Homo sapiens: one gene and its partners. The protein of the gene in region 3 purifies or fractionates together with the protein of the main gene of each other region. This does not show direct contact. Each region holds a gene or a part of one and is shown on either strand. Other genes may lie near its edges.

Region 1 (8,041 bases), on a different chromosome or scaffold from region 3:
CGTGAGCCACCACGCCCGGCCGCAAACTTTTTTAAGTATGTTTCCACAAACAAATAATACTAAAACCCTATTATTCCTTCAATACTGACATTTTCAAAAAGTAGGTGCTCTCTAGGTTTTTAATTATTTTTTTAAAAGCCCCAAATGACATTAATAAACAGAACTAAAAGACAGTAGGGATCCTGACCTGAGTACAATACCATCCTCTACCAAAGCCTTCATCTGAAAAATAGTAAGTAAATCAGCAAAATAAAACCCACATCAACATTCTACAGTCTGCCTTTCCTTCCTTTTATCTTTCTCTAAAACAAGATTTATCTAACAGAGGTCAAAGAATTCAGTAAGATAAACACAGCTTTCTTGACAGTATCCAAAAAAAAAAAAAAAAAAAAAGAAGCCTGGAAAAGCATTTTTCTGGCCAAAAGCATTATCTTCTCTTGGTTTCTACACCTATTCTTACTTTCATCTTTCATTTTCTTGCTTCCTGGAATCTCTACATCTAGCCTCTCTTTCTTTTGAAAGTCTTTTGCCAAACACTTTCAGACGGACAGAAGGATGACTGGATGTCTGTTCACGGCCTAAAGGGCCCTCCCCGTGTTCCCTGATGCTACAGGATCCGCGCCTTTCTCTGATCATTGGCTATTCTGAGTCTCTATTAGAAAGACAGAGCTGGCTTGTGGAGGGCTAATGGCGATGCCAGGGATTCCTGTCCACAGAAATGCACATCAGGTGAGGATACCACTGGCTCCTCCGAGACGGAGTGACGGTCTTGCATCTTTCGGCATTTCTCATTGCGTATGTCTCCCCTCTGGACTTTCCTTTGGGCTGGATTTAACATCTTATTGGTTCTTTCCTTAATTATGAGTTAAATAAAAGCTCTGACATCTATTTATTTTATATTTGTATAAGAATCATGATTTTCCCTTTTTCAAAAATTATCCTTTAATATTTTACTTTATCCCATGGCTGAGCAAATATTTCTGAAACTTAAGTAACAATCTGTACAGTAACATCAAAATCTGTTAATTTTATTCCCACTGAAGTACTTATTGGATAAATGTACATAATGTTATTTTAAAATTTTAAAACACTTTAGTACCCTGGAATCTTAAGTCATTAAACAAAAACTTTTCCTATGTGGCAGAACAATGAATAGTATATATCCAAGAAGAGCAAAGAATCCTGTAAGGATGAACACTTGTGAGGCACTTGCTATGCTCCAAGTTGTTTACCTCCTCACTTCCTGATTCCTCGCATCGACCCTAAGGAACAGGTACTGCATTGTACACCTGAGGAAACTGAGGCAAAAGGAATCTAAGTAACTTACTCAATGTCATATTGCTAGTAAGTGGCACAGCCCAAGTTCAAATTGAGAGAGTTTTGCCCCACACAAAATCAAACTACCTCTCAGAGAAGAAAAGAACATTTTAAGAAAGCTAAGTACTTTCAGTGCCATTATTCTTCACTGCCATTACCAATCTCATCAAATAATTAACCTGACACTTATTAGGAACACTGCTGTTAGACGCAGTTCAGGCCAAACCACACTGTGGGCAGCAGCAACAGGAATAATAAAGAGATTCAAAGGCTGAGAAGGTGTGGGGAGGTAGAGAGAACAGGGGTGGGGGTAAACACCAAAACAGAAGTTGAAGAAATCACGTTTATGATAGTAAACGTCTGAATGAACCCTAACTGATAATTTTGTCCAAGTCTCATACTAAATATATTTTGTATATCTCCATATTCCTTTTGCCCATGTATAAAACTGGCTCTTGGTTATGAAGAGCAGCTCAGAGGGCCTCCTGCTCCACACTTCTCAGGCAGGTTGGAAAGAGACTGGCTTTCCAGAGCCTTGAAGCACCCATAAGGGGCTTACTATCAACTGCAAGTCTATTCATGCTTAAAACTGTGCTCAAATAAATACCCAACTGTTACCATTATTTTCTAAACCTTCTCAATCTTTGAACTCTTAATTTTGGAGGCACTGGAATCCTTAAACGGCTCTAGAATGACCCATACTGCAAAAATGTTTCAAAGATGTTACCTAGAACAGTCAAAGCTCACGTGAAGCTGCTAAGCCCCAGACTTTTTCAACACGTGCTACTTTCCCAAGACAAACATGCTACTTCCCCTCAGCCAGGGGCAAACCCCAGCAGGTGAAAATGAAACTAATGATCTTCAAGAGTAGGCTTGAAGATTATATATAGAGAGATTATTGGAGAATTTTCCCCATTCCTAGAAAACCCTAAACTAAAACCATGGTTAAAGTATTAACAGTGCTAATTTGTCACTTTTGGTAAGAGTTTACAGAGCAATACTCAGTATACAATTCCATAAGCAGAAGCACTAAGGCCAGAAGATAAATTAGCTGCGATTAACACATTAGGTGAATTGTTTAAGTAGAAAGGCACTAATTATAAAAGTTACTAAAACACTGTACTAGGAATTCAGAAAAAAACTCTAGATTCAGTTATAAGGCATCTTGAAAGATATCATTTACCTGGCAGAATTCTGATGATTAAAGTTAAATAAGTCTGGATTAAGCAAGAATGAGTAGACATTATAGACAAAATTAAAGACCAGATTAGACCTGGCTATTCTAAAATACTTCTAGAAAAATCAAAAAAACAGATTATGTATGCTATTTTGACTTCAGGTGCCATCTACCTATTTAAACTTAACCATCTCTAGACAACATACTAAAGACTTTTCTTTTTCACAAAATGCAAAATCAAAAAACTGAAGAGGTAAAAGTAGTTTTAGCCACAAGTTTTAACTAACTGCAAAGTTTACTTGCAGCATAGCTAACAAGGCTTCATAAATAACACCCATCTCCAAACAACTGAGGTGTCTTCAACTGTGTTTCCTGGGATGTTTCTGGAGTTTGAGTCCCTTTCCTGTAAGTATATAAAACTTTTCAGGAACTGAAAAATAAAGAAGACTGAAAGCAAGATGGTACTCACTTTTCAATCTCAATGCCAAGCGGGTTAGCAGGACGTAAGGACAAGGGCGGAATTCCTTTGTTCCTGTCAGTGCGCATATCATAATAATTCATTTCATCAACCCACACAGCAGACTGATCCAAAATGCCTACAGAAATGAGGAGCATATGCTTAATAAGATGAAGCCTACCCCAGGCACCTTCTACGTCTGGCCTATTGTCTGACTTCTTAAAGACCTAATACAAAATGCCTGTTGGATAATCTTTAAGAGATTTGAGGACATAACAGCTAAATTTTTAAAAAATGACTAGTAGTTTAATTATAAGCACTAAAAAAATTTATAAAAAGGCAAAAATTACACCTCTCAGCTTATGGTTTCATTGTACATTACTCAACAGAGAAGACAAATTAAGCTGCTTAGACAAAGTTTTGCAATAACAAACATATTTTACAAATAATAAACACTACAATTAAACATTGTTAAATGTAGCTGATTAAATCTGCACAAAAAATTCAGAAAGTCAGTAAGATGAAATAATATGACCTATAATATCTGTTTATTCAAGAGAATATTCTGAAATCATGTAAACTCTTGGAAAATGTCTGGGAAATATCCAAGCACAAAACATTCGAGTAAAATGTTAGCTCAGTGGAAAGCTTCTGGTTTATGATAAATGCCGAAAAACCATTATGCATATATGATTTTATATTTAATACTGTGAGTTTCTGCTTCTGGGTTCCATAAGCTACCTAAGGACATTTCACTACAAATGAAAACCAAATGTTTTTTAAATGGTTCTTGAAAGCTCTCAAGAAATATCTTTTATTTTCTTTTCCTCTACAAACTCTGGCATGTTTTCATGAATAGTTATGCAAAAATAATATGCTACTTGCTATTTCTCATTCTTTTTGCTGTTATCAGTGCTGGAAATGTCCTAGATGGTAGAAACAGCAGGGATTTTTTTCCGTATTAGGCTGAAATCAATTTGGTAAATTCAATAAAATATCTAACGATTAAATCAAACACCTTTCAAGGAACGCATGGCTTGTATAATGGAAATAACCAGGTTATTCAGGGAAAACTGACTGGGTGTGGACCCTGTGAACAAGACAACATAAGCTCTAAAAACAGCATCTTCCTTTATGGGACTGAACTCCGTTATCATTCAACCTAGCACAGGGCTTACCAGCTAGGCCTCCAAGGCCCTGGGCTGCAACAGAAAAAGAGCCAAGTGCCAGGGAGCACAGACAAAGCGTGCCTGCCTCCCCAGGCGAGGATCAGAAGGCTTCATGGGAGAAGGCTGTCTGAATACCAGGCAACCTGTAGCTGCAAGGCCCTCTATGAACCCACTCATTCTCTCAGCACTCGTGGTTCTGCCAGCATGCAACAGGGGCTTCTGCTCAAGTCCAGGCACTCTTGAGTTCAGTTCAAGAAAGCTTTACTGGCCGGGTGCAGTAGCTCACACCTGTAATCCCAGCACTTTGGGAGGCCGAGGTGGGCGAATCACAAGGTCCGGAGTTCGAGACCAGCCTGACCAACATGGTGAAACCCCATCTCTACTAAAAATACAAAAATTAGCTGGGCATGGTGGCACGCACCTGTAATCCCGGCTACTGCAGAGGCTGAGGCAGGAGAATTGCTTGAACCTGGGAGGCGGAGGTTGCAGTAAGCCAAGATTGAGATCGCGCCATTGCACTCCAGCATGGGCGACAGAGCAAGACTCTGTCTCAAAACAAAAAGAAAAAAAAAAAGAAACCTTTACTAAGCCTACTATGTGCTAGGTCCTGGAATGAGTATTCCAGAATAATAAAATTACCACTTTTGCCTAAGTTTTCTTTATCTGCTATATAAATAGATCATAAGATATTAGATTTTTATCAAAATGTTTAAGTCCCTCTAGAAAACTGTACAACAAGTTCCTGCTTTAGTTTCAGTTTAGTTTTTGAAGACACTAAATAAAAAGAGTAAACAAAAATAGAAATGTTATATATGTATATATGTACACATGCACGTACATGTACATATATAAAGTCCACTCTGAATTTTCCCTGAAATTCCTTGAATTTTTATTTATAAAAATAATCTAGGAATTTGTGGAGAACAATGCTGCAGAAAGCCTCTATGCTCTAAGATTAAAAAAACAATTTGCAAAATTATTTATTTTCTTTATAAAGAGAAGTACTGGCTGGGTTTAATTACGCCTCTGATATTCCTACATTATACAAATATTTATCAAATGCTGACCAGGTGCAAGACATTACAGGACCACAAAGATGAATCTGACATTACTCTTATTCTAAAAAGGGAAAGAGACATGCACAGAAATAGCTACAAGAAAGATCATCAGAAATTATTAATTTGCTGGGTAAGGGACTATGCTAAGCACTTTACATTTATGTTCTAACTCACCCAATCCTATGAGGTAGCCAATATATTCCACTTTTGCTCATGGATAAAGAAGGTATTAAAGTTACATACTCAGTCATGGTAAGAGAGTCCAGGTTAGAATTCAAAGAGCATGACTTCTCAGACCAAGTTCCTAACGCTGCTAACGTAAGGCAGCAAGTTCCTAACACTGCTAACGGAAGGCAGCAAGTGGTCAGCGCATAAAGAAGGAAAACAAAGTGCTATGTGGTTCAAAGAAGAGTGAGTATTACTAACAGGGGCGTTAAAAGCAGCCAAGCTAGGAAATGTATCATCTGGGCCTTGAAGGATGGATAAAATGAAGGAAAAGGGAATATTATTTAGATATATTATTACTAATTTGGCCAAATCAGGATTTTTCACCTCAAACCTTGTTTAAGAGTTTAAAGCAATGTCATTATATTCAAGATCAAGGAACCAAAACTGGTATATCAAGTGAACGAACAGATTTTAAGAACTGAGAAGAGTAGTTCTCATACGACCGTCATCCTTAGGCTTCACTGACTGTTACCTCAGCACACTGCCTTCCCGAAAGTAACACAAATATTAACCAACATCCCAATCCTGTCAAAATAAACATAAACTAAATCTAAGTTGAGATATGCAAGTAGGTAGGTTTTACACGAATCTACCAGCTTTACAGCTTAAAAGACAAACTCATTTTTACTTTCTTCTTTAGAATAAACCCATGAAAGACTTTACCTATTTTCTCAGGTTTGAGTAGCTTGAAAGAGACTGTTGAGGTTCCTCTGCCACCTGACTTAGTGGTGACAATAATGTCTCCTTTGTCATTTTTGGCTTGTCCCACTCGACATACTATTTTACTTGCAGACATCCATTCTGCCGTCAGGAGGCAATTATGTCCACAAATGGTCAAGCCTGAAAATAAACGCATGTGCATAACAAAATTCAAAGACAAGAACAATAAGACCTTAATCGTGTAGATTACATTTTTTAAATCTAGTCTTGTTCAATAATGACATTATTGAATATACCCAATATTATTTGCAGATATACTGTTATCTCTATTGACTTTTCCTCTTACCTGTTTTTTTCTCCAATATTTAAGACTTCTTTTAGGCTACATTTGAGTTTCTTCAAACATCCGTAGAATTAGAAAACGAACACCACAACAACTATGTTGCAGGAATTCCAGATTACTTAGATTACGAGAATCTTAAAATGCTTTCAGAGGTAATAAAAGGGAAACTACTGCTATTATTTGAAGTCTCAGTTATTAACATAGAATTTTAAAGTGTATTAATAAACGTATGTATCATTTTCTAAAAACATTCTACATTCACCCATCTTCCTGAGACAAATCTTCACGTGCTTTTTCTAGTGTTCACTTATACATGGCATTACAGAATGAACTAAAGTAGGTTTTTTATTTAAGCATAACCAAGAGTCAGGTAATCTAGTGAAGTGTGCTCAGGCATTACTGGATTACCATCTCACTTTTACATCGGTGTGTCAGCTGCTGGCATAGTAGTTCCTCCTGCCCTAGTGCTTTCCTAATGAAACTGTCACTACACTACATTCTGCTCTTACAGTAAACCTACACTCCCAGAAGGTCAACTCATGATGTCACCTCCCTCATACCATGTAAAACAAAATTTAGGTAATAACCAAACAGAGAGGCACTGAAAGATGCAGTGAGTAAGGCACACACCTCAGGGGGAATACCAGCATGGCACCACACTGGTCAGCTAGCCTTCCAACTTACTTCCTTTAGATTTTCCATTTCCACAAAACAGAGACCAATGTAATTAATATTTATGGAGAAAAGAAACCAGAATGTATGTGGCACAGACACAGACACTTGACGTTTTCTTTTTTTTTTTTGAGACAGGGTCTTGCTCTGTTGCCCAGGCTGGAATGCAGTGGCGTGATCTTGGCTCAATGCAACCTCCATCTCCCACGCTCAAGCAATTCTCCAGCCTCAGCCTCCCAAGCAGCTGGGACTACCGGTGAGCACCACCACGCTCGGCTAGTTTTTTTGTTGTTGTTTTGTTTTTGTATTTTTTTTAGAGACACAGTTTCGTCATGCTGGTCAGGCTGGTCTCGAACTCCTGGCCTCAAGTGATCCACCTGCCTTGGCCTCCCAAAGTGCTAGGATTACAGGTGTGAGCCACCATGCCCGGCAGACACTTCACACTTTTTCTCATTATTTAACTTTCTATAATGTTCAGCACTAAGGTTTAGCAATGGCAATGTTTTCTTTCGGCTTTTTTTCAGATACCAGAAATATATCACCTAATGCCAAATCTGACTTTAAAATGGAGGCACAAAGTCAAATCATCTTTTGTTCCAACTTAAAGAACTATTTAGTAAGAATGTTAAACCATAAAGGAATAAAAGCAACTATGCTTTAAAGATACATTGCTTGAAATAATGAATTTTAGGGGTTTCTCTAAAATACCTATAATTCACTAATGTCTGCAACTTTGTTTTTCTAATAATGGCATTAAAAGGTTTCCTCAGGACTATGGTTTCTACTGGTATATTTTAATTATAATAACACATTTTTAAATATATTCATTATTCAAAATTATTTTTTTCAAAATGGGCATGTCTTTGATATTTTTTCTAATAATTTTTGTTATGAAAAACTTAAATAACTTAAGAGATTGAAAGCCTCTCCAAACTCCACCTCGCGAGAGAAATACTGCTA
Region 2 (8,170 bases), on a different chromosome or scaffold from region 3:
AATCTGGCCTCCACGGAGGCCTTCTTCCGCGCTTCTCTCCTGCGATACTGCTCCACCTTGTCCAGCTGGTCCGGGCGCTGGAGCATCCCAGCAACCCTTTGCACTGCTGTCGCAACGGCCTCCCGGTCTGTCTCCTTCATGGTGAAAAAGCTGGTGGAATCCTCACACTGTTCATGCTAGGGGTGTTCTCTGTGCACTGCAGGAGTTGTTAGGACGGTAGAAATGTTAGGTACAAAACCTCCCCCAAACTATCAGGTGATCACAGTGGAGCTACAAGCAGAGCCTCTGAGATCATTAATCCAGGAAACCTCAAAGAAAGCTGAACTAGGATGAGGAACTCCTTGATAAGATAAACAAACCTTCGTAACACAAACATGCAGAAGTTATACCTTTAAGGGGAGAGCAGGGGCGTTTCACAGGCATGAGAGACATGGACATTGCGAAGATTCTAGATGTGGGTCCCAGACCACCCAGCATGTAGATGTCAGCCTCAAAGGCACATCTCTCCCCAAGACAGGGCTGGTTTCTCATTTCGGGAGCTTTCCCCCAGCACCTTGGCCAGGCCTGTGGGCAGCTGCACCAGGACCCTCAGTGAAGACAAATACAGCGTGGACAACTCCCCCGACCAGGTACCACAGCTGGAGGCCCAGCACAAGCCCCACAATTCCCACCCTATAAAAGTGACAATAGTCAGCCAGGCCCGGTGGCTCACGCCTGTAATCCCAGCACTTTGGCAGGCCGAGGCGGGTGGATCACGAGGTCAGGAGATCGAGACCATCCTGGCTAACATGGTGAAACCCTGTATCTACTAAAAATACACACAAAAAAATTAGCTGGGCATGTTGGTGGGTGCCTGTAGTCCCAGCTACTCGGGAGGCTGAGGCAGGAGACTGGCGTGAACCCCGGAGGCGGAGCTTGCAGTCAGCCGAGATCGCGCCACTGCACTCCAGCCTGGGCGACAGAGCGAGACTCCGTCTCAAAAAAAAAAAAAAGAAAAAAAAAGAAAAAGTCATTATTGTCTTGGGTATCCAAAACCCCATTTCCCCCTTTTTTAACTGTCCTAGAAAACATCATGCTTCCCTCCTTTATGCAGGCCCCGTGCAGACCACAGGTGCTCAGATGCCAGGCAAGCCTGCCTTCCATGCTCCCTCCACCATCGTCCTCCTCGGGGAGCTAACACAGCTGCTTGGTGAGCATCAGTCAATGAGGGAATCCGATACACCTGTTCCCCTTGACTTCAGCTGTCTGATTTTCATCTTCATGAATATTAAAAAGATTCACCTTCTCCTGGAATTTTTCATTCTCCATGCCCACATGCTTTCAGACACCTCTCTTCTCCTTTTTCATCTGGACCTACATTGCAACCTTTCCTTTCTCTTTATTTTCTGATTATGAAATTTGGCATACCAACGTAGAAAATCTGGACAGGACAAAAATACAAAGATGCCAGAGGCAACTCCCCTTAAATCCCATCATCTATGGGCAACTCCTCTTAAATCTTGCTACCCAGGGGCAACTTCCCTTAAATCTCACAATCCAGGGACAACTTCCCGTAAATCCCACCACTCAGGGGTAACCCCCGCTATATCCCACCACTCAGGGGCAACTCCCCTTAAATCCCGCCACCCAGGGACAACTCCCCTTAAATCCCGACACTCAGGGGCAACTCCCTCCAACAGGGCTTGTTTCCTTCCAGTTTTTTCCCTTTGAGTTTCTTTTAAAGCTAAGATTCCACTGCTTATATGACTTTGTAGGTGCACACTTTTGTTTTCTTATTTTGTTTGGACATTATCATCAGCATTTCCATTGACATTAAAGCCTGTATGATTTTGATTATAGGGCTGGATAATAACCCAAGAAGTGGACCCCCAGCCGCTCTGCTGGGGCACGCGGTGAGGTGGCTGCGCCCATCTTAAGGCTGGAGTGAAGTCTGTCACGCTGTGGGTGGAAGCCAAGGCAATGTGAGTGGAGAGCTGTGAAGCAGGGCTCGCCTTGGAGTCAGAATAAAGCTACTCATGTGGAAAAGGGGAAAATCTGGAGTTAAAAAACGCACCGCAGAGGCTTCCATCCCAGCCTGAAGACTAAAGATTTTGGGTCACAGAAGCCAAAGAGGAACTCAGAGACCATAAACAGAGACCCAGGTCCAGCCCCTACCAGGGCCTTTCTGACTGCCTTCCCCTGGCGCTGGCTCCGCTGTGAGCCTCTCCGCCGAGCGGGGGGACACCCTACTGCGGGGAACATCAGCACCCACGGAGACACCTGCGCCAGGGAGACACCTCTGCCGGGCAGACACCTCTGCCAGGAGGGACCCTTTACCGGGGGGACGCCTGCGCCGAGGGGAACACCTGTGCTGGGAGGCACCTCACGGAGGGGACACTCCGCTGGAGGACACCTGCACCTTGGAGGACACCTGCACCTTGAAAGCTTCCTAAAGGCCAGGAAGGACGCTTGTGCCCAGAAGGACACCTGCTCCGACGAGGGACACCTGGTCCGAGGGGGGACACCTGTGCCAGGAAGGACAACTGCGCCTGGGGGGGGACACCGTCAAGAGGACACCTGCACCAGGAAGTACACTTGTGCCTGGGAGGGACACCTGTGCTTGAGGGGACACTTGCACCTTGGAGAACTCCTGCGCCGAGGGGACACCTGCGCCAGGAAGGACACTTGTGCCTGGAGGGACATCTGCCCCAAGGAGGGACACCTGCTCCGAGGGGGGACACCTGTGCCAGGAAGGACACCAGCGCCTGGGGCGTGGGGGAAGACACTGTTAAGGGGACACCTGCACCAGGAAGGACCTTGTGCCTGTGGGGACACATGTGCCAAGGGGACACCTACGCCTGGGGGGGACACATGTGCCGGGGAGGACACCTGCGCCGAGGACACTCGCACGAGCGGGATACTCCACGGGGTCCGGAACGGCCTCCCCGCCCTCCAGGTCCCGGTCCGGCCTCCCCCTACGCGCCCCCGCGGAAGCCAGAGACAGGGAGAGCAAGGATGAAAGACGGCGACCACCTCCCAAGGACCCGCCGGCCGTCAGGACCTGCCACCGACTCACCCTCTACGGCTACGCCGCCGCCGCCGCCGCCGCCGCCGCCGCCGCCGCCGCCGCCGCCGCCCCCGCCGCCCCCTCCGCCTTCGCTGCCTCCGCCTCCGGGGTCCCGGCCGGAAGTGGACAGCGCGCGGGCACTTCCGCTTCCGGCAACGGCGCCGGAAGCACGGGTCCGGGCCCTCCCGCGGGGCGGGTACTCGTCTCCCGGCCGAGCGACTTCAGCTCGGGGACCTGCCCCATGGCCGCTCCCCAGCAGGACAGGGAAACCGCCGAGGTGGGGGGCTTCTTGTCCGTCCCAGCCCCCCCAACTCAGGCCCTCTCGCTGCCCCTGGCGACCACCGCGTGCGCCCTTCCCCAGGGCGGGCGCAGTCCTGGACGCCTCCGCCGAGCGTGACTGCGTGCATTTTCTCTCCTTTCCCTTCCCAACCTGCGGAGAGAAGACAGCCCCAGAGCCGCTGTCTCCATCCTCTGCTGATGCCTGCTGTCTTTATGTTGGCCTCGTCGTCCGCACTGCAGTGTGGCAGGGGCGTCCCTCGTTTCCCGCGGACTGAGGTGGGCGCCGGGCATTCAGTAAACGAAGAAACCAAAGCGGAGAAGGTTGGGAATCAAACGTCTGTCATACCTGCCACCAGCAGACAAGCGGCTTTGGGTACCTCCTGGACCCAAAGACGAACTCAGCCCCTCCAGGAGCGCAGTCATTGGCACCCTCGTGGGAACAATGCCAGTGGGATGGGTGGCCACCGGATGTTTCCGGGGCCCCTCAGAGGCCCAGCAGCGCAGGTCTTGGAGAATGAATGTGGGTCACTGGGCCGCGCTGCAGAGGGCCGGTCCTGAGTCGCTTCCTGGAGGAGAGGCCCATGGCCAGCACTTGGCTTCGCCTGGAGGAAGAAGCACGTGCTAAACCACGAGCGTTCAGGGTTTGTCTGTTTGATAAAAGATGCTGGCTTTGACACACCAACTGACAAAGTCTTTCATAGGTTGGAGCTGCTAGGTTGTGCCCCTGCCCCTCCTGAAAATTAGCCACACGAAAGGAAGGGTCTGGAAGGTGGCAGGGAAGCCAGCAGAGACCAGGGAAGTGGCAGCAGCATGGGGCAGGGGCACACAGGAAGGAGATGGAGCTTGCGGGAGCCCCCACTGCCACTCCGACAGGGAGCCCTGCCCCGTGCCCTGCTGATGTTGACACTGACCCCGGCTCTATTATTTCAGTTTTTCCTTGTAATTTCTGAAAATCTAGCAACAAGTTGAGCAATGAAAAAAAGTAAAAAAGTTAAAATTGTGTTAGAAATTATGACTGTAAAGAAATTTTGAAACTAATGAAGAAAAAATTGCCAAAATTGCCAAAGCTTTTAGGACTCTTAAAAATATAGTAACATTGAGTATTATGAACTAAAGACTCATACTATTATATCAGTGTCTGGTAGTGAATTTGGATGGAGGACTGTCTAGTAACTTCTTAACAAAACATTGATTAGAAGTCTTTCTTGGCGGGGCGCCGTGGCTCACGCCTGTAATCCCAGCACTTTGGGAGGCGAGGCAGGTAGATCATGAGGTCAGGAGATCGAGACCATCCTGGCTAACATGGTGAAACCCCGTCTCTACTAAAAAAAATACAAAAAAACTAGGCAGGTGTGGTGGTGGGCCCCTGGAGTCCCAGCTACTCGGGAGGCTGAGGCAGGAGAATGGCGTGAACCCGGGAGGCGGAGCTTGCAGTGAGCCAAGATCGCGCCACTGTACTCCAGCCTGGGCAACAGAGCGAGGCTCCGTCTCAAAAAAAAAAAAAAAAAAAAAAAAAAAAAAAAGGTATTTATTGGCTGGGCGCAGTGGCTCCTAACTGTAATCCCAGCACTTTGGGAGGCTGAGATGGGCAGACCCCTTGAGCCCAGGAGTTTGAGACCAGCCTGGGCAACATGGTCTTTTTGGTAGGAACCCCATCTCTACCAAAAAAAACCCCACAAAAATTAGCCAGGCATGGTGGTGCATGCCTGTAATCTCAGCTCCCTGGGAGGCTGAGGCAGGAGAATGGCTTCAACCCGGGAGGAGGAGGTTGCAGTGAACTGAGATGGCACCACTACACTCCAGCCTGGGTGACAGAGGGAGAATCTGTCTCAAAAAAAAAAGTTTCTTGACTTCTGTTTTTGGCAGACCATGTTCTGCGAACACCCAGGAGCACTGCTGAGTGCAAGCATCATGTCGATTGCACAAGTGGATTCACGAACAGGCAAGGACGTGACCAGGGACAAATGTGGGAAGGGGAGAGGACGTGAATCAGAAGCAGAGATGCTTGCCGTCCTACAGCAGGCAGGTGGGTGGGTAGGGTGCGAGTTCTGCGGCCCAGGGGTTGGGTTTTACACTGAAGCAGGACAGATGATGAAGCTAAGGCTCCCAGCAGGTGGGAGGTGGACGGCGACTCCCATGTGAAGCACAGATGTGCAAGGGATGCATCCTCAGTGAAAGCGTGGACTAGGAAAACAGCAACAGCCTGGAGACTGTTCCTAAACTCAGCCCTCGGCGGAAGCCAACCCAGGGTCATTGCTAGAGGGATCCTCCTCCACCTTGACAGGAGCAAACTCGAGGGGGAGGGAGGGGAGGGCACTGAAGCACCCACAGTCCTGACCCTGCTCTGGGAGAATAGAGACCGTGCTTAGCTCCTGCTTAGACCTTGTTAAATGCCCACATTAAGGTTAGCCACTACAGAAATAGAAACAGGAAGAGAGAAAATGCAGGCAACAGCACAGAGACTGCAGGCAAGGAGAAGATGAGGACCCTGTGTTGAAATGTATCAGTAATGAGAACACAAGTAAGTGGATTAGAAACAGTGAAACATTCATAGGCGAACATCTAAAGCATCAAGAAACAACGATTAGAACTGGAGGCTTTTCACACGTGGGTCAGCCAGGCCCGAGAAGCTGGTGTGGGGATATGAATATCAAACAACATGGGTTTTTGGTCAAAAGCCACTGTCAAAGATAGTTATTTTCCTAAGATGCAAAATGCATAAGCCATAAAGAATAAAATAGAAAAGTTGCTATATTAAAATCTTAAACTCTTGTGGGATATAATTTTTAAATCCTTAAGTGAAAAGCCAAGCCACAGACTGAGGGAAAACATTGTCAGCATCTGTAACTGACAAGAAAATTGCTATCCAGAATAAAAACAGAACTCCTGCAAATTGATCTAAAAGGGCAAACAAGTGCAGCAAGAAACGGGTAAAGGACAAGAGCCACTGGCTCCGGGGAATAAGCTGCTTCCCTCGGCCTTCAGGGAGACCTTGTCCCCACACCCTCCCCACGGGGCCCTGCTGAAGCCTCTGAGCCATGACTAGGGTGTCCGTTGACCTGACCAGACCATGAGCCATGACCCAGGCCCTGCTCTATTGTCAGCCAGACCTCACTGCGGCCATGCAGCCTCCCCCACTCGCTATTCAGCTCCAGCCGTCCATACGTCCTGCATAAAACTGCCCCCAAAGACCTGGGCCACCCCCAGCCCCAGCTCTGTGCACCTGCAAAGCACCGGTCCCCTCCATGCCCCGCAGAGTTTACGGGGTTCTCATGGTCACGTTCAGCTGCCTGCACCCCTTCCCCCTGCACACGCACACACCGCACATCACACATGTTCAGACGCCAGCTCTGGGACAGCACTGATGTCTGCATCGTTTTCTCCTGAATGCGTCCCCAGCACTGGTGCAGGGCCTGATACTCAACAAGGACTAAAAATATGCCGAATGAATAAACAAAATGCACATAAAACAGCTGCCGTTTCATCCCTTCAGAAGCCCAAGACTGAAAAAGTCTGTCCACACAGGTGCCAGTGTGGGGTGAGGATGGGAGCCCAGGAGGTGTGGCTGGTAGAAGGGAGGCCAAGTGGGTGCAGCCCCTCTGGAGGACGCTGGGCAGCGCCTGGTGAGATGAAATTGTGTGCGTCCAGCTGGGCGTGGTGGCTCACATCTGTAATTCCAGCATTTTGGGAGGCCGAGGTAGGCTGATCATGTGAGGCCAGGAGTTTTAGACCAGCCAGGCCAACAAGGTGAAACCCAGTCTCTACTAAAAATACAAAAATTAGCTGGGCGTGGTGGTGGATGCCTGTAGTCCCAGCTACTCTGGAGGCTGAGGTGGGAGAATCACTTAAACCTGAGAAGTGGAGGCTGCAGTGAGCCGAGACTGCACCACTGCACTCCAGCCTAGGCAGCAGAGTGAGACTCCATCTCAGGAAAAAAAAAGAAAAGAAAAGAAAAAAGAATTGTATGCGTTCCAACTCCACACAGGCACACTCAGCAGAAGCCAGACTGGGGGTGAGGAGTGAAAATGCGGGAACTCCATCTGCCTGAGGCCACAGAGGAGAGGGCATGGGGGGCAGGGTGGGTCAAGTTGTGGGGCCACAGATGGGAGGGCTGGCCTGGTCCTGGGGGAGGACACGGGAGTCTTACACGAGTGACCAGGACGGGTTTGCTGATGGGCTGCAGGGTGCGAAGGAGGCCTGGCAGGGGCTGCGCAGGCTCTAAAGATGCCTGAAAGGAAACAAAAGCGCAGCTCCCTGGGCCTTGGACTGCCGTTTGTGCTTAAGGAGACCCCAGCACTTTTTTCGATGGCATTGAGGGGTCTGGCCGTAATCTGCCTGGGCCCTTCCCCCTTCCCATGGGCTTGTCGTGCAGGCCCTGTGCCAGGCAGGGTGGACCCCGCATGGCCCCGGACCCACAGTGCCCTCAGCTCTACCCTCCTCACTTCTTACAGGACGGGTCAGGTCTGGGACGTCCTGAGAGCACCCAGGAGGGGCCCTGACCCTCAGTGACAGGGGAGGGGGGCCTAGGCCCTCTCTAGATGCCACTGGTCAGGAGCAGGGAGATGGCAGGCATTTTCTCCTCCTTCACGAGGCTTGCGGCTCTAGAGTTTTTATTTTTATTGCTGCCTTATATTTAGTGGTGAAAGGCTGTCTTAGAATGTAGATTAACCAGCACACTCTTTAAAGGAAATAAAGTGACTTTGGAAAATCACGCAGACTTCCGCAAACATTTAAATTTTTGTTAAACATGTACTAGCATGTCATGTATTTTACATCAATATTGCAAATTTAATACAAACCACAGTACAAAAAAATTTGAAAGCTTCCTAAAGGCACTGAGAAAGC
Region 3 (8,122 bases):
CATGAGCCACTGCACTCAGCCTATTCATAATATTTCTTAACCTTTTTTTAATGTCTGTAGAATCTATAGTCACGTAACCTCTCTCACTCCCGTTTTTTTGTTTGTTTGGTTAGTTGGTTGGTTTTGTTTTTTTTTTGTTTGTTTTTGTTTTTGTTTTTTTAAGATGGAGTCTCGCTCCGTCGCTCAGGCTAGAGAGTAGTGGCATAATCTCGGCTCACTGCAACCTCCGCCTCCCGGATTCAAGCGATTCTCCTGCCTCAGCCTCTCGAGCAGCTGGGATTACAAGCGTGTGCTACCACACCCAGCTAATATTTTTTTGTATTTTTAGTAGGGACGGGGTTTCACCATGTTGGCCAGGCTGGTCTCAAACTCCTGACCTCAAGTGATCTGCCTGCCTCGGCCTCCCAAAGTGCTAGGATTACAGGCGTGAGCCACCGCGCCTGGCCCTGTTATTTTTAATTTGTATCGTCTCCTTTTCTACCCCTAAAGGTTTATCAATTTTACAGTCTCCTCAAAGAACCAGTTTTGAGTTTCACTGACTTTCTGTATTTCTGTCTCACTGAATACCACTCTGATCTTTACCATCTCCTTTCTTCCACTCTTCTGAATTTCATTTGCTCCTCTTTTCCTAGTTTCTTAGGCTAGGAGCTGAAGCCATTCTTTTCTAGTAGAGGTGTTTGGTGCCATAAACTTCTAACTATTTCTTTAGCTGCATTCACAAATGATATGCTGTGTTTTCATTTTACTCAGTTTAAAATACTTTCTAATTTCTCTTTTGATTTATTTTTTGTGTGTTAGTCAATGACCAAATATTTGGGAATTTTCCAGATAGTTTTTGTTTTTTTGTTTTTTTTAACTACTGATTTCTAATATACTTCTGTTGTGGTCAAAGAACCATGTTATATGTCAGGGCCTGCGGAAAGTTTATCACGTGCTTCTCAGGAAAAGATCAGGCTGAAAAATCCCGCCGCTGAGAAAAAACAATATAAATAAAATGATAAGTCTACAGGCCAGCTAAAAGATAATTAGGAAATAACAACAAAAATTAATCTTAATACTAAAATATTTATGAATAAATTGATGTCTTGGATTTCCTTCAAAATAATCCAAGATGATAGGGAGTAGATAAGGGAAGAGATCAAACAAGACTGGCCAGGGAATGAATTGAAGCTAGATGACAGTTCATGGTGGTTCATTACACTATTTTACTTTTTTAAACATTTAAAATTTTTCCATAATAAATGGTTTTTAAAAATGCAATATTAACACTTCACTTCGTGAAACCTGAAAAAAAAGGGAAAAAATAGTAGTAGCTTAAACAATGTTCAAGAGAAAAGACTGCTAGCAGTACCCTCTATATGTGTGCAAAAAGCGTCTGCTTATAAATGAGACACAAATATACATATATATGGGATAAGTATGAGTCACCAGGGATTGCTAAAGAAAAGAGAGTGGGTTCAAACAAAATGAGCCAGTTGAAACAACTGCCCAGCAAAAAAGAACAGAATAACACTATGAATACACATATTCTGTTCCTGAGTGTCCCAAAAATCTCTCAATATATTTCAAATTTTTCTTCTAAGTTAATTTCATCTTTTTTCAAGGACACTACCTAGCACATTTTCCTAAGATGAAGCACCTCCTTCATAACCAGTACTATTTTCACAAATAAACTACTCTAGTAACTTTATCACACACTGCACTCTCAGTTTCAAGATGCAGTGATGAAAACAAAGCTTCCTTTTAATCTTACTTCTTTCATTACCAAGTATACAGTTTATTAAAAGAAATAATAATGTTGGAAAATTAAGGAAATGCACTAATTATGCATTATCATATCATAGCAGAAACCTTATGTGACAAAAATTTATAACATGCCTACCACATGCTTGGTGTTAGGGATACAGTAGTGAACAAATAGGCAAGGTCCCTAATGTTCTGAGTTTCCTGGGCATCTGAATACTCTCCCCTCCCCATTCTACAAATAAGGAAACCGAGATCCAGAGAGGTTAAATAATTTTTTTCCATGACTGCACATTTCATCAGAGGCAGAATTAGGGCAAAACAAGAACCCAGGCCTCCTGACTCTTAAGGGCAAGGTGTATTTACATAACTTGAACTGGCTTCAATTTACACTATATTCACAGGTCCACAAACTGTACAGCGCTCTATTCTAGGAAGTGTATTCTGAAGAATACTAATGATAAAGCATAATCAGTCTCAAGTTCCCTAAGTGAATAATAACTTCATTTATCATTATTATCACTCCAAAAGATGAAACCTTATATGTAAAAGGAACTTATTCTTGAAGACAGTGCCTAACCTAACCCATGGCTCATTACGTTGCCTGGCTAATAATATTCTATTGGAACAGCAGGTACTCAGTTTGGCATGGAATATGCATTACCTAGTACTATTCTTAAAATGAATGGGGAGGAACTCGATTTAAACGGAAAAATTAATGCAATTTTAATGAAATGTTTGTAAATAAGTAAAAGCTGTTCTGCCTCCAAAGCAGCTTAGATCCCGCGAGCGCAGGGTCACCCTAGCGTGTTCCCAAGCAGCAAGCAGCTGCTCTCCTCCAGCCCACGCTCTCTTCTCCAGCCCACGCTCTCTTCTCGCCCACTGCGGCCGCGCGGGGGAGTAGGGGGAAAGCGGGCCGGCGTCTCCCGCTCAATTTCAATTCTCCCACGCCCGCGGCAGCCCGGCGCGCCAGGCTTTCCACCCGCGCGCGACCTGGCACCTCCGTCACGCCGGGTGCCTGCTGTCGACCCTAGCCTGGCATGCCCGCGGCCGAGCAGCCCTCAGCCCCACCACGAGCGAGACGGGGGCAGGCCCCAGAAGTGTCCTCGGGCCCGGGGGCCGCAGCCAGGAGGAGAACGCGGGGCCGCAGCGCGGGGCCCGGGGTTAGAGACCCTGCAGCAGCCACACCCACCGGCTGCGGGGTGACAGCTACAGCGGTGGAGGCAGGCCGCGCCGACAGGTGCAGCCGCCTTCTCGGTCCCGCCCGGGTACCGGCTAGAGTTCCGCCACCCGCGAGCGCCCCCGCCCGCCCCCGCGCGCACCACCTGTCGGGGAGCTTCGCGCGCGGCCGGCGGCGGACGCCCCGCCCGGCTCGTGAGGAGCGGCCGGCGTGGGGCGGGGGGCCGAAGTCCCGGTGGGATGAGATCTTTACCGGAGGGTGGGCCCCACACAGGCGGTGTCGGTGCTCTCGATCTCCTGCAAGATCCGCTCGTGCTCGGGGACGGTGCCCAGACTCTCGCTGTTCTCCGCCATTTTGGCTGGAAGCTGAGGAGCCAGCGAGGCGCGGCGCCGCGGGAACGACGGGGGCGAGCTCCAAGTGGCGCGAGCGCGAAGGGGCGGGGCGGGGGCGGGGCGCTCGGGCCGGCGGCGCGGGGGCGCGCGGAACGCCGGGCAGAAGGCGCGCGACCCGGTTCCCGCCCCCGCACCTGCAGGAGTGAGCGGGGGCTGTGAGCTGGGGCTACGGGCGGCGGCCGGGTACCCAGCTGGCCTCCTGCCCTCTCTCGCGACTAGTCCCTCCTGGGCGTCTTGTGCCTGGCCTTTGGGCTTTAACATATCTCCTTGTCTTCTGTGTGTGCCACACCCTGTGCCACACGCGGGGGTACCGTAGTAATCAGCAAGGTGGACACTCAGATCATCACCCTGAATCTGTAATAAGAGCCACGGGGACATTTAACAAGGGCCTGATGTACTCTGGGTCGTGGGGAGTCAGAGAAAGGAAAACATGCACTCACGAAAAGCAAAATTGCATGTGATAGTAAGATTTATTTTAGGAACGAATAAAGATCCCAGTTGACCATGAAGACCGCTCCAGGTGGATTCATGTCCCCGCCTGCAAGAAGTCCACAGCGGCCAGTCAACTTGGAAATAAATTATAAGCGACATAAAAAATTAAATGATGAGAAGTTAAGACACTTGATGGCAGAGATACCAAAAAAAAAAAAAAAAAAAAAGGCCCAGGGCGATGTGTAATTCATACCAAAGTCCGTGAACTCAGGTGCCCCCAGGTCAGAGTAGCTGGGTTGAGAAGGGGTGAGAGCTCTTGAAAGGGGGTTAGCAGCAGGGAGGTGGGAGAGAGAGGCAGGGAGGCTTGGACAAAGGTATCAGTGTAGAAAAAAGTCGTGCTTAATGACATGTTTGTGGGACACTGAGTAAACCAGTTTGTCATGATCAAAGCAGGGAGGAAGGAAGACTAAACAGGAACAGAATGGAAACCTAGCCTGAGGAACAACTACTTTCTGCTCTACATTAATCCAGGGCTTTGAAAAGCTTCCCTTTGAGTCAACCAAGCTCTTTATCCAGCTGTGTAACTCACTCACCCTTAGTGAGCTTTTACTTGAAACCTACCTCCAGCCTCCTCCCCACAAACATCCTGGGAGGTGGTATTGTGCAATAGTTAGAGCATGAGCTCTGAAGACCAGTGTCCGAAGACATTAATTCTTGGATTAATATCACTTGACAGCTGTGTGACATTGGGCAAGAACCTAGTTCTTTTATATGTCAGTTAAATGACTGTAAATGACAATGGCAGTGTCTGCCTCATATTGCTGTCCCATGGTGTATGAGTTTTCCATTGTTGCTTTAACAAATCACCACAAATTGAGTAGCTTAAAATGACTCAGACATATTATCTTACAGTTCTGTACGTTAGAAGTCTGTCACAGGTCTCACTGGGCTAAAAATCAAGGTGTCAGCATGTCTGTGTTCCTTGCTAGAGACTCTGCGGGAGAATTTGTTTCTTTGCCTTTTCCAGCTTCTAGAGGCCACCCACATACCTTGGCTTGTGGCCCCCTTCCTCCATCTTCAAAGCTAGCAGCATTACATCTCTCTGACCATTCTTCTGTGGTCACATCTTCCTCTGACTCTGACTTAGGCTGGAAAAGATGCTCAGTTTTTAAGGACCCATATGATTAGAGTGGACCCAACCATTTAATCCAGGATAATCTTCCATCTCAGGGTCCTTAACCTTAATCACATATGCAATACCCCCTTTGTCATGTAAAAATAACATATGCACAGGTTCCAGGGATTAGAATGTGAGCATCAGTGGGACCCACTGCCTACCAAACTTAGGAAGGGCCCTATAAAACATTGCTAATGCCCTCCTTCCTATTAATCTGGAATCTTCAGAGCAATGGATTCCAGCTATACACATCCATTGAGCTAAGACAGTCTTCCATTTCCTGCAGAGAGACCTAGCTTTTCATTCTTTTTGTGGGAGGGGATAAAATTTGTCTTCTTTTTTTTATGTTTCAGTTTCAATTTTCAAAAGGTTATTTTCCCCTCTCAAGAACTTCTTAGGTCGAGCACAGTGGCTCACACCTATAATCCCAGAGCTTTGGGAGGCTGAGGCAGGAGGATTGCTTGAGCCCAGGAGTTCGAGGCTGCGGTGAACTATGATAATGAGCAAAATGAGGAGAGCAGGGCATGTGGCACAGGCCAGTTTCCTATTTGACCAATGTCTCCAGCTGGGGAATTACTTTCCTGATCATTCCTTCCCTAGAACTCTACCCCTTTTCTTCACCAGTCCTGATACCTTTTATTCCAAAGCTGGCTCCAAGTGCCCCTGCTCTGGGAAACCAGCCCTGCTTAGGCACTCCTCAGGCCAGCCCTGTTTCAACACCTGCCCATAGAGATTACTTCAACATAAGCAGCAGTATCTTCCCCGAAATTCAAGTGAACATGGAAGGAAGTCCATTTACCACTTCTCCTTCTGAAACAGTTTTTGCTGGTTCCCTCTGAGACTTCTGACAGTTCCGTGAGTACCTGGAGGTTTTAGCTAAGAATTCAAAGCTAAATGTCCTAAATAACTAATTGCACATTTGTTTTGTTTGTTTGGTTGGTTTTTTCGAGACAGAGTTTCGCTTTTGTTACCCAGGCTGGGTAACAATGGCGTGATCTTGGCTCACTGCAACCTCCGCCTCCTGGGTTCAAGTGATTCTCCTGCCTCAGCCTCCGGAGTAGCTGGGATTACAGGCACGTGCCACCACGCCCAGCTAATTTTGTATTTTTAGTAGAGACTGGGTTTCTCCATGTTGGTCAGGCTGGTCTCAAACTCCCGACCTCAGGTGATCTGCCCGCCTCGGCCTCCTAAAGTGTTGGGATTACAGGCGTGAGCCACCGTCCCCGGCCCTAACTGTACATTTTAATCATGGACATAGATATATCAAATATGTCAATGTGGGGTGGGGGAAGCCTATCCAAGGGATAAATGATTTTTTTTTTTTTTTTTTTTTGAGATGGAGTCTCTCTCTGTTGCCCAGGCTGGAGTGCAGTGGTGCGATCTTGGCTCACTGCAACCTCTGCCTCCCGCTTTCAAGCGATTCTCCTGCCTCAGTCTCCTGAGTAGCTGGGATTACAGGTACATGTCACCACATCCAGCTAATTTTTGTATTTATAGTAGAGATGGGCTTTCACCATGTTGGCCAGGCTGGTCTCACACTCCTTCCCTAAAGTGATTGCCCTGACTTGGCCTTCTGAAGTGCTGGGATTACAGGCATGAGCCACCACGCCCAGCCCCAAGGAGTGAATGATTTAACGTCTGCACTGAGAAGGTTGCGGAGTAGCAGGGCACAGACAGGCAGATTGCAGATGCATGTGGAATTATTTTTTGGCAGTGGATATTGACTTCCAGAGATCAATCCAAAATCTCTTTTCAGGACTCCTGGAAGAAGAAAGATACACCAGGAAGACCAGCAGGACAGGAGATGCATTTTGTGTCCAGTATAAAAGTAATTGGCAAAGTAAGGATTTGACTTGTAAATAAACTCTTAGTCATTAGGAACTTAACTTTGCGCCTTTTATCTACAGACTAATGACCTGTCTTGGGAAAGCGCCTCCCTCAGAATGAGGTTGTAGAGTGCAACTGCTCTGGTCTGGCATTTAACTACTTGAATTCAAATTCCAACTCATCTCTTACTAGATGTCAGGCCTCAGGGAGTTACTTAACTTGACTAAGGCTCACGTTCTTCAAGTGTGAATTAAGGACAATAAGAATCCCTAGCTCACCAAATTATGTGAGGATTAAAGAAGATAATATATGTATTATGTTTAGCCTAGAGCTCAATCAACATTAGCATTGGCGACTAGGGTTATCAGGCATTTGCTAGTAAGCCAGAGAGCCCAGCATTTTAGCCTCCTCTTTGATAAAATAAAAATAAAAACCAGACACATAAATGTTCTTTTTCCTAATCATTAAAAAAAAACCTGATTGTGTATCAGGGTTTTCTGCATGTTTGGTGGATGTAAACCAACTGAAATATGTTTCCTGCTTTTGTAGAGAGGGAAACAGGAACATGTCTTTGGGTTGGATTCTTGGTTCCAGACCCATTTTAGTGAACCCTCTGGATCCTGCGCTTTTAAGGCAAGCACCTTTCGTTGTCCTTGGGAGCAGTGCTCACTCATCCTTGGAAGCACATATCATGGTGGTGAACAAATCACTGAGTCTGTCTCCATTTCCAGGAACTGCTCCTACATCAGGCACAGGGACGATGCCTGTATTGTTCACTGCCCAGCCCAGTGCCTTGCATATAGTAGAGGCTCAATTAATAAGTGAATGATCCACATGCAAATACTTGTCGTATTAAGCTTAATGTTGTAAATGGCATGTTTTTCTTTTTTTTCCTTTTTTTTTTTTTCTGAGACACAGTCTTGCTCTGTCACCAGGCTGGAGTGCAGTGGCGCGATCTCGGCTCACTGCAACCTCCGCCCTCCAAGTTCAAGTGATTCCCCTGCCTCAGCCTTCTGTGTAGCTGGGACTACAGGCACGTGCCACCACGCCCAGCTAATTTTTTTTTTTTTTTTTTTTTTTTTGAGACAGAGTCTCGCTCTGTCGCCCAGGCTGGAGTGCGGTGGTGCAGTCTCGGCTCACTGCAGCCTCCACCTCCAAGGTTCAAGCAGTTCTCTCCCGAGTAACTGGGATTACAGGTGCCAGCCACCACGCCCGGCTAATTTTTGTATTTTTAGTAGAGACAGGGTTTCACCATCTTGGCCAGGCTGGTCTTGAACTCCTGACATCGTGATCCACCCACCTCGGGCTCCCGAAGTGCTTGGATTACAGGCGGGAGCCACCGCGACGGCCCACTCAGCTAATTTTTTGTAT
Region 4 (8,041 bases), on a different chromosome or scaffold from region 3:
AACTCAGGAAATAAGCATAGCATTTAACTAAATTGATGCTTTAGGCTACAGTATGGCTTAATATTTTTCCATACTGAAGTTTAAAATTTAGCTCTCCTTTATCCAAGTTAATAAAATGAATGTTATCACTGGTAAAGAGCACTGACTCATTTTCTGCTTTGCTAAGAATGTACTACAGTATTTTAAACTTGGGGAACTGAACACATGACCTCTTAATTCTAAAAGATAATGCTCTATTCTCAGTGAGTAAATGACGTCAAATCCATACCTTTGTTAGTCCTTCATATTTTCCATAATCTGTACTCTTTAGCCACTCCATCAGCTTGGCATATCGGAGCAAATCTCTATGAAATGGATGATGATTGGGTAAAGTCAGTTCAACAGAGTGTTGGGCAAGAGTCGAACTCTGATCATGACCCTAAAGTGAGTAAAATAAGTAAATAAATGTAATCAACAGTACAAAGAAACGTTACAATAAAAAGTCTAAACAATGACCAAAATGTGGCCAAGCCAAACCAATAAGACATAGAAAAATAATTAAGAATAGAACACAGAAAAATAAAAACCAAATACTTACACAACTTTTATATCCTGTGTATATCAAATGAACATTACCACCATAAGATAATCATAAATACGCAAGAATGGCACTCTGATAAATCAACTACCCATTCCGTCTTTTAAAGGAATGAAGATGGAACGTTTTAATGAAGCTTGTCTCTCTCATACCATATTTCACAATTTACCAAGCAAATGACCTTCTTGATATAGCTTGAATTAAGAAACACAAATAGAGAAATCATTCAAAACAGTCTACATTTATGGTATTCCCATTAGAGTTTGTAATATTTAAAACAACAGATAAAAAAAAGTAGAATATAAAGTCTTAGAGCTTGGAATTGGAACCTTGGTCATCTGAGTCTTACTTCTGTCTTGGAGCAGATTCAAATTGAAAATACAATTTCCCAACAACAAGCAAAAGGCAAACCAAGACAGATTTATTTGATGTAATTTTCACTCAATCTAATTTGCCTAGATAGCCAGAAGTTATTTGTCAGCATTTTGTGAAAACTGTATTAAAATTACACAGACTGCTAGAGTTTTGGAGCTAGTTAACTCATTTCCTGATAAGGTTACCTAAAGCTAATTATGAATGTGTATCATACTAGTTGGTACACATTAGCTAAATAAGCGTCCTGAATTTAAATTCTTTTAAGTTAAAAGGGATTTCTTTCACCTAATTTATATACTGTACTATATACACAAAATAACCTAGTGGTTATGAATTTTAAAAAATTTTCTTTTAAATACAGACTATTCAGAAGGAAACATTTCTGGCCTAGAGGAAATGAGGAGTTCCTTGGTAACTGAGAAAGAAAGATGGGAGTATAAGACATGCCAAGTACAAAAACCCACATCATTATCCATGTCCCTTCTTCATAAATGTTTTCAAATCAGTCTGTTGGAAAATTTTCTTCATGTGAGAATATATCCCAATTTAAAATGGAAATTAAAAAGAAAAAAGGACCCATTATACAGAAATTACATATAAAATGGTAGAAAACAACCAATACACTTCTCAGATTCATCTTACTGATATCTACTTAGGTTAACTTGGGAAACTGAACTAGAGATGGCAGAAAAATATCACAAAATGAAACTGACCAGTTCAAAATAACAAGAACTAGAACACAGGGGCAACAGAAGTTCACAGCTACCACAGATGTTATACACAAGGTATATTAATAGGTCCATAATCCCTTTCTGTAATTCTGACAGCCAAAAAGCTCTGAAAACTCAGACTAAGCTTGGCACCAAAACAATTTTGATGGTAAAATGTGACCTGAACTGACATGGGCCTATTTATAGTGCTTAGAGTGACTATTCATATTTTTTGTTGCAAAAACATGTGCTTGGAGTGATTATATAATATACAGTATATATACTGTATTGCTTTTCTAAAATCTGAAACATTCTAAAAACACTCCTGACCCCCAGAATTCTGGATAACGGAGCGTAGACCTATGTGGATATTCTTTTCTGGGTGGCTACCTGAATATAAAACAATCACATCTTCCAAAAGAATCAATGAGGACTAAGAGCTAAAGTGTTGAAGAATGGAACAATTCTGTATTTTTAGAATGCCTGGGCTACCATATCTTTTCTGTAAGGGCTAACAATAAAGATGAACAAAATCAATAATATTAAGTAAAATACACAGGCATTACCATTGGACTATTATCTATTTCTATGTTGCCAAAGGTCAATATAAACATTCTATTACAGAAATGTTTTCTAACCAAGATGCCAGAAGGATAATCAGGATTCTACAGCATCACATGTATTAGATACTAGCCAGATATAGATATTATAGTTTTAGGTCTATAAATGTCTCCAAATTGTGTTTTATTTTTTAAAAATTTATTTTTATTAATAGAGATGGAGTCTTACTATGCTGCCCAGGTTGCCCCCAAACTCCTGGGCTCAAGTTATTGGCCCACTTCAGCCTCCCAAAGTGCTGGAATTACAGGTGTGAGCCACTGCGCCTGGCCTAAACTATGTGCCTTAATTGGTCACGCTGATTAAAGGGGAAGAATATTTGACAGACTTATATCATACAAATGTTTACCAAATAGTTTTTATTAGTAACAATGTATCGTTATCCAAAACAATCTTCCTCATTAATTTTTCTCAATGATTCAAGACTCAAAATTATTGTCTATGTTCTTCTACTACTGTTTACTCAGGCACAAATGTCAATTAACTTGTTCAAGGTAACCCAGCTAGGAGGTAGGAGAGTCAGGATTTTGAACCCAGGAAGTTTGGCTCTAGTGTCTGCACTCTTAAGCACTTTGCTATAGTGACTTTTTTAAAGAAATGATACATTGGGGTCAAAATTTGAATAAATTTTCAAGATTTGGAACTCCTTCTTTCTGTTATGGCATACTTACTTATTCTTTTCTTAAAAAAAAAATCTGAGCAAAGTTCCAACAAACCTCACAAAAATAGATCTTAATCACAAGTCTTTCTAAGCTTTTAACCAGAGATCATCAATCCGTGTTTACAAATATGCTTAAGGAAACAATTTTTGTAAAAGAAATTGAATGCTGGTGGTCTGCAATACAGGTTTTATTTTATTATAGCTTGTTTCTGTATATGTATGTTGAGAGAAAAATTTCTAAACTTAAGCATATGGTAAAAAGTTCCACAACTTCAGTTTTTTCCTGGTTGTACTTTTAGTTCAGTGCATTTCAGTTTATTTTCATTTTCTCTAAGTTATGTACATAATCAGTCTCATCATGTTGCTAAAGGCAAAAGTAGATAGAATCATGAGGTCTCTGTAGAACCAAAGGGGGAAACAAAAGGCAGAGAGTAGTTATCAAAATAAATCTTTCAAAAAACAACCAAAACAATTTTTTAAAGGACATATTCTTTATGCAAATATTTCCTCAATTTCATTAGCCTTAATTTGACTGTTTTCAATATCATAATCCTAATTAGTGTAAACTGACCAGATTCTCATTCTTGATCTTTCTAGATACAGAAATCCCTAGTAAATGTAAAAATTATGGGCAAGAGCCTATAATTTCAGGGGAAGTTGAGTGTGTAAGATCTGAAAGATCTAAAAGAAGCTAACTACTCTTTATGTAACATTACTCTCATATTATATTACAGTGATTATTATATTAAAATACACTTCAAGTTTCACTTAAGTATAGATAACACAGAAGTATTAATAGGAAAGTTGCATTACAGATAGCATGCTCTGGATCAGTCATTCCCAAATGCAAGATGTTTTTCCTGGCCTATAGCAATAAGAAAAAGTACAATGAAAGAAGTGAGTCCTTCATAAGGGTAAATGTATTAATTTTTAAAATCGGAAAGGAAATTCTTATTCTTTTAGTGCCAAAATGTCATTTTTAAAATGAAAAGATAATGAAAGTGGATAATAGTATTTCTTTTTAAAGGTCTTTATTTGGTAAAATAAAAAAATTGGTGATTTGGTCAGTCTCCGAATTTTATTTCTTTTAATTTTACTAATTTGTGAATTTTAAAAAGACTGAGAATCAATGCTTTGAAATTACTGTTATATTGTGAATAGATTATTTTCACTGGATTCTTCAGTACAATATTTGTAAATGTTGTAACTATACATTTGCTATAAACTGTATTGCATGGACTCGTTCAAGTCCTACCTTATCTGCAATTCCTTCCATATCTCACTCCTTAAATTCTCAATAAACTCACTTTTGATTAAACCTTTTTAGCACTTACAGTCCACAGTTCTACAATTAGCAATTTATTACATACATTGCTAATGTACATTAGTCTTAACTCCTTACAAAGAGTAAGTACATTAGTTTTAATTCCTTCTTACAAGCATCTTGAGGGTAGGAACTATTGCTTATTCTTATATATGGTAGACAGTGAGTACATAATAAGCATACAATGAAAATTCTGTGATTGCCAAAGAGGTGTACCATATTATTTTAATCAATTTTCCCAGCTTGTCTCCCTACCAGGAATAGAAATACCCATGTTTCTCAACAATTTTGCTAGGTGACCTGATGCACTGAATGCAACACTAAGAAAATCTTTCTTATGTGTGGGATATCTTCTTCCACCGTTTTTGGCACACCCCAGGTTGTCGCAGCGTTCTGATTTTTAACATGCATCACTCACATGTAATAACACATATCAGCTTTTCAGAAATGGGAAGCATTCATTTTAAACGAGGCCATTAGTTTACAAGGCAAGAAGCAAAATCATAAATAACTGCATGTTACAACAAACAGTTAAGGGTACAGAAAAGACTATTGTTTACTGGCTGGTATTTTCAATACTATCTAACAAATGTGGATAACATAATTGTCAACAGTGTCATTTTTAAAAACTAAGGAATTGTATAGAAATAGATGTTATTGAAGTAAGTACCTAACAAAAACATGAATTAGTATTTCCTATGTGACATTTAAGCTTACTTTTTTCTCGACACTTTTCAGTCAAGTGGAATGTTAAGGGAATCTCTCTGATTCCCCCCTACCGTGCTTTTAGTTAGGTGGTCTTCCTTTACACTCCCACAGTCTCGCTGTCATAACATTTATCCCTCTTGAGTATATTATTTGTTTGTCTCGCTTCCCTAGACTGTGAACTACTAGAGGACAGGATTGGTCTCTCATTTATCCCAAGTTAATGTCTGGTATGTACCTCAATCACCTGGCAATACTAAATAAATGAAGGATTAATATTACTACTATTACTAAATGAAGGAGTAATATTACTATTTATTACTAAATGGAGTGAAAAAATGACAGAAAGAAAAGCAAGCAGAATGAGATTAAATGCTTTTTTGGCCAAAATAGTCTCTACTATGGGACATTTAAAAACTGCTACGAATGTGGTTAACAGGTAGCTTAAATCAGTAAGTTATAATCTGTAAAGATTCGGCTGCTGTTAAGTTTAGCAAACTTTATAGAAAAAAAAAAACAGAATCAGAGAAGCTTGAGCCAAATTTGATGTACTCACAGGAACCGAAAGAAAGTAGGACCTGTTATAGAGTTGAAGGAGGGCCTGAGTAAACTAATTGGAAATAAAATATAGTAAATACAATTGTTTTAGAATATTGCAAAGTGAAAATAAAGTAAAAATCCATTGTTTTCAGGCAGTATTTCTTGATGAACGAGATATTCCCCCAATTTTTTTTCATTCTATAACTCTAATAAAATAAAAGGGACTTTTAAAAGAGATGAAAAAATAAGAAACCTAATTTATTGTATTAGATATTAAAATGGCTTTTATTCAAATCCCTCAAAGGTACTCTTAATATTATTAATAACAATATTATTACCACACTCTTAATTATAACATCCTTTTCCATATAAAAATATAGGTAAAGCATTTATATGAAGATTAGATCAACTGAAATTTGCAGTTGAGCTAGTCATTTTCTTAACAATTATACTATGTACTAAGTACATAGAACTTACAAAACATTTAAAACACTGAATCAAGTCCTGAGTCTCACCTCAAAATACTGAAAAATAAAACAGGTCCAATAGTAAATATCTAACAAGTTTGGACTTACTTTATAAATAAAAATATCTAAGTAGTATATGCAATTCATATGCATAGTTATTTGATTTCTAGAATCAGAGAGCATCAGCTGAAAGGAACTAGACTGTCTACCAAAAGAGGCAGCTGAGGCCCAAAGTACATCTATGAGCAAAGAGGCTCCTATTTCAAAATCTTAAAATCAAATATGTGAAGGAATTGACTGCAACCCCAATTAAACATATTAACATTTTTGTGGAAATGTAAGGTTAATACATAAATAAGCTATAGGAACATGCTCGTTTTAATAATAAAATAAAATTACCTGTTGAACAAAAACATTGTTGAGGTGACTGGCCAGTCTCCGGGCAAAAAGCTCTCGCAAATCACTGAATCGCTGCTGTTGCTGTTTGACTGCCAGAAGCAAGTCATGGCCTGACACAGAACGACATTTTGTGACCAGTTTAATGGGTAAAAAGATTTCCTTGATGTTTAATGGAACATTAAACGTATCTAACGTTTTGAAGAACCCAAAAGTTTTATGGGTGTATTCATTTACATGATAAAAGTTAAGCAGGAGAAAAATGGGATTTCACAGTAGTTCTCAAAGTGTGGTCTTGCCTCACCATCGCCTGGGAACTGTTAGAAATGTGGATTCTAAAATCTCAGCCCAGATCTGCTGAATCTGGGACTGGGGCCAGGCAATCTATGTTTTTAACAAGACCTCTAGGGATTCTGACGGACACTCAAGTTTTGAAATAATTGCTCTCGTCTAACCAAAGCACCTACTTTCTGCTGGGTTCTGTGGATAGTACTAAATAAAGATCATGGTGTTGACTATAGTCATTGAGGACAATTAGAAGGAGGAACTGAAGTAAAAAAGTTCCTAGTATCAATAGAAATAAGTTGGGAAATCAGTGAAACTTGAATAGCTAATAATGTAACCCTTAAACCACTTGTCTCATGTATTTCTTGTCAAAACCTTTATAACAAGTTACAGGCTTAGTCTCACATTCTTGGTCACATTTTTGTCATTTCTAATGAACATACCTGGTCGAAGAGCTACATTCATGCACTGCAGAAGGGCATCAGCAGCATTGGTGCAGGCCTCAATGCCTCTGGAAGAAGCAAGATCTCCTTCCTGAAGGGCCTTTATATGACCTTTGGCCAAGTCCATGTGGTTCTAGAATATATGCAAACACACCATTTGCATGTGTAATTTTGGGAAATTTACAGGCAAGATGCTATTCAGTCCTATCATTAGGTCTTTGGAATTATTTTAAATCCTGTTCTCACAAGGAAATTAAAAAATGTTTACAAATGGGTTTTATATATCATCACTAGTTTTTTTTTGTTGGTAATTTATGATCATACTTACCACAAGGAACTCTATCTCAGATAGGAGTTTTACATTATTAGTGTTACTAAGATGAATTAGGTGGTTGCTTTCAGAGATCTGATCCATTTGTTCTTTTACACTTTGGAGCATTTCCTCATAACTGCTCAGTTTCAATTCAATCTGATCTACCTCCTTTAGAGCCTCATCTAGCAATTTCATCAGGATGTTGACTTGTTTTTCAGATGCCATGATTGACTGGATGTTAGCCTACAAAGTTAAAGACCAAAACAAACAAACAAACAAACAAACAAACAAAAAACATACTTGTTATTTAGATGTGTAAAAGAATAAAGGTGAAATGTTGCTAAATTTCCTTGAAAGTAGCATAACAAAAATTGATATATACCTACACATCTACTTCAGTTTATCACTTTATGTTCTTCCATGTTTTACACAGTATTTCATGCAGGTACACTTGCCTCTAAATCAATGTTAGGGACCATGCCTTAGGATTTTATATTTCCACAGACTGCACAAGTAAGGTTCCAGAATGCACAAGTAAGGTGCCAGAAAGTATCACTGGTAATGGCACATTCTCATTTCTATACATTTAGGAGGCATTAGGCCATGTTATCTCTAACATTTCCTCCA

The links.
Region 1: the proteins of EXOC6 (region 3) and EXOC2 purify together in Homo sapiens (affinity purification with mass spectrometry; 6 studies listed by BioGRID and IntAct, with this or other methods). This does not show direct contact.
Region 2: the proteins of EXOC6 (region 3) and EXOC3 purify together in Homo sapiens (affinity purification with mass spectrometry; 7 studies listed by BioGRID and IntAct, with this or other methods). This does not show direct contact.
Region 4: the proteins of EXOC6 (region 3) and EXOC1 purify together in Homo sapiens (affinity purification with mass spectrometry; 5 studies listed by BioGRID and IntAct, with this or other methods). This does not show direct contact.

The regions. Positions count from the first base shown.
Region 1 is NC_000006.12:626,872-634,912, forward strand, and holds part of EXOC2 (exocyst complex component 2), read right to left. Parts: intron 6,247-8,041; coding exon 6,070-6,246; intron 3,091-6,069; coding exon 2,964-3,090; intron 1-2,963. UniProt on the Homo sapiens protein: Component of the exocyst complex involved in the docking of exocytic vesicles with fusion sites on the plasma membrane.
Region 2 is NC_000005.10:438,176-446,345, reverse strand, and holds the start of EXOC3 (exocyst complex component 3), read right to left. Parts: upstream 3,171-8,170; 5' UTR 3,056-3,170; intron 197-3,055; 5' UTR 141-196; coding exon 1-140. UniProt on the Homo sapiens protein: Component of the exocyst complex involved in the docking of exocytic vesicles with fusion sites on the plasma membrane.
Region 3 is NC_000010.11:92,843,688-92,851,809, reverse strand, and holds the start of EXOC6 (exocyst complex component 6), read right to left. Parts: upstream 3,291-8,122; 5' UTR 3,277-3,290; coding exon 3,176-3,276; intron 1-3,175. UniProt on the Homo sapiens protein: Component of the exocyst complex involved in the docking of exocytic vesicles with fusion sites on the plasma membrane.
Region 4 is NC_000004.12:55,870,294-55,878,334, reverse strand, and holds part of EXOC1 (exocyst complex component 1), read right to left. Parts: intron 7,658-8,041; coding exon 7,430-7,657; intron 7,235-7,429; coding exon 7,102-7,234; intron 6,487-7,101; coding exon 6,377-6,486; intron 5,581-6,376; coding exon of another isoform or gene 5,527-5,580; intron 419-5,526; coding exon 269-418; intron 1-268.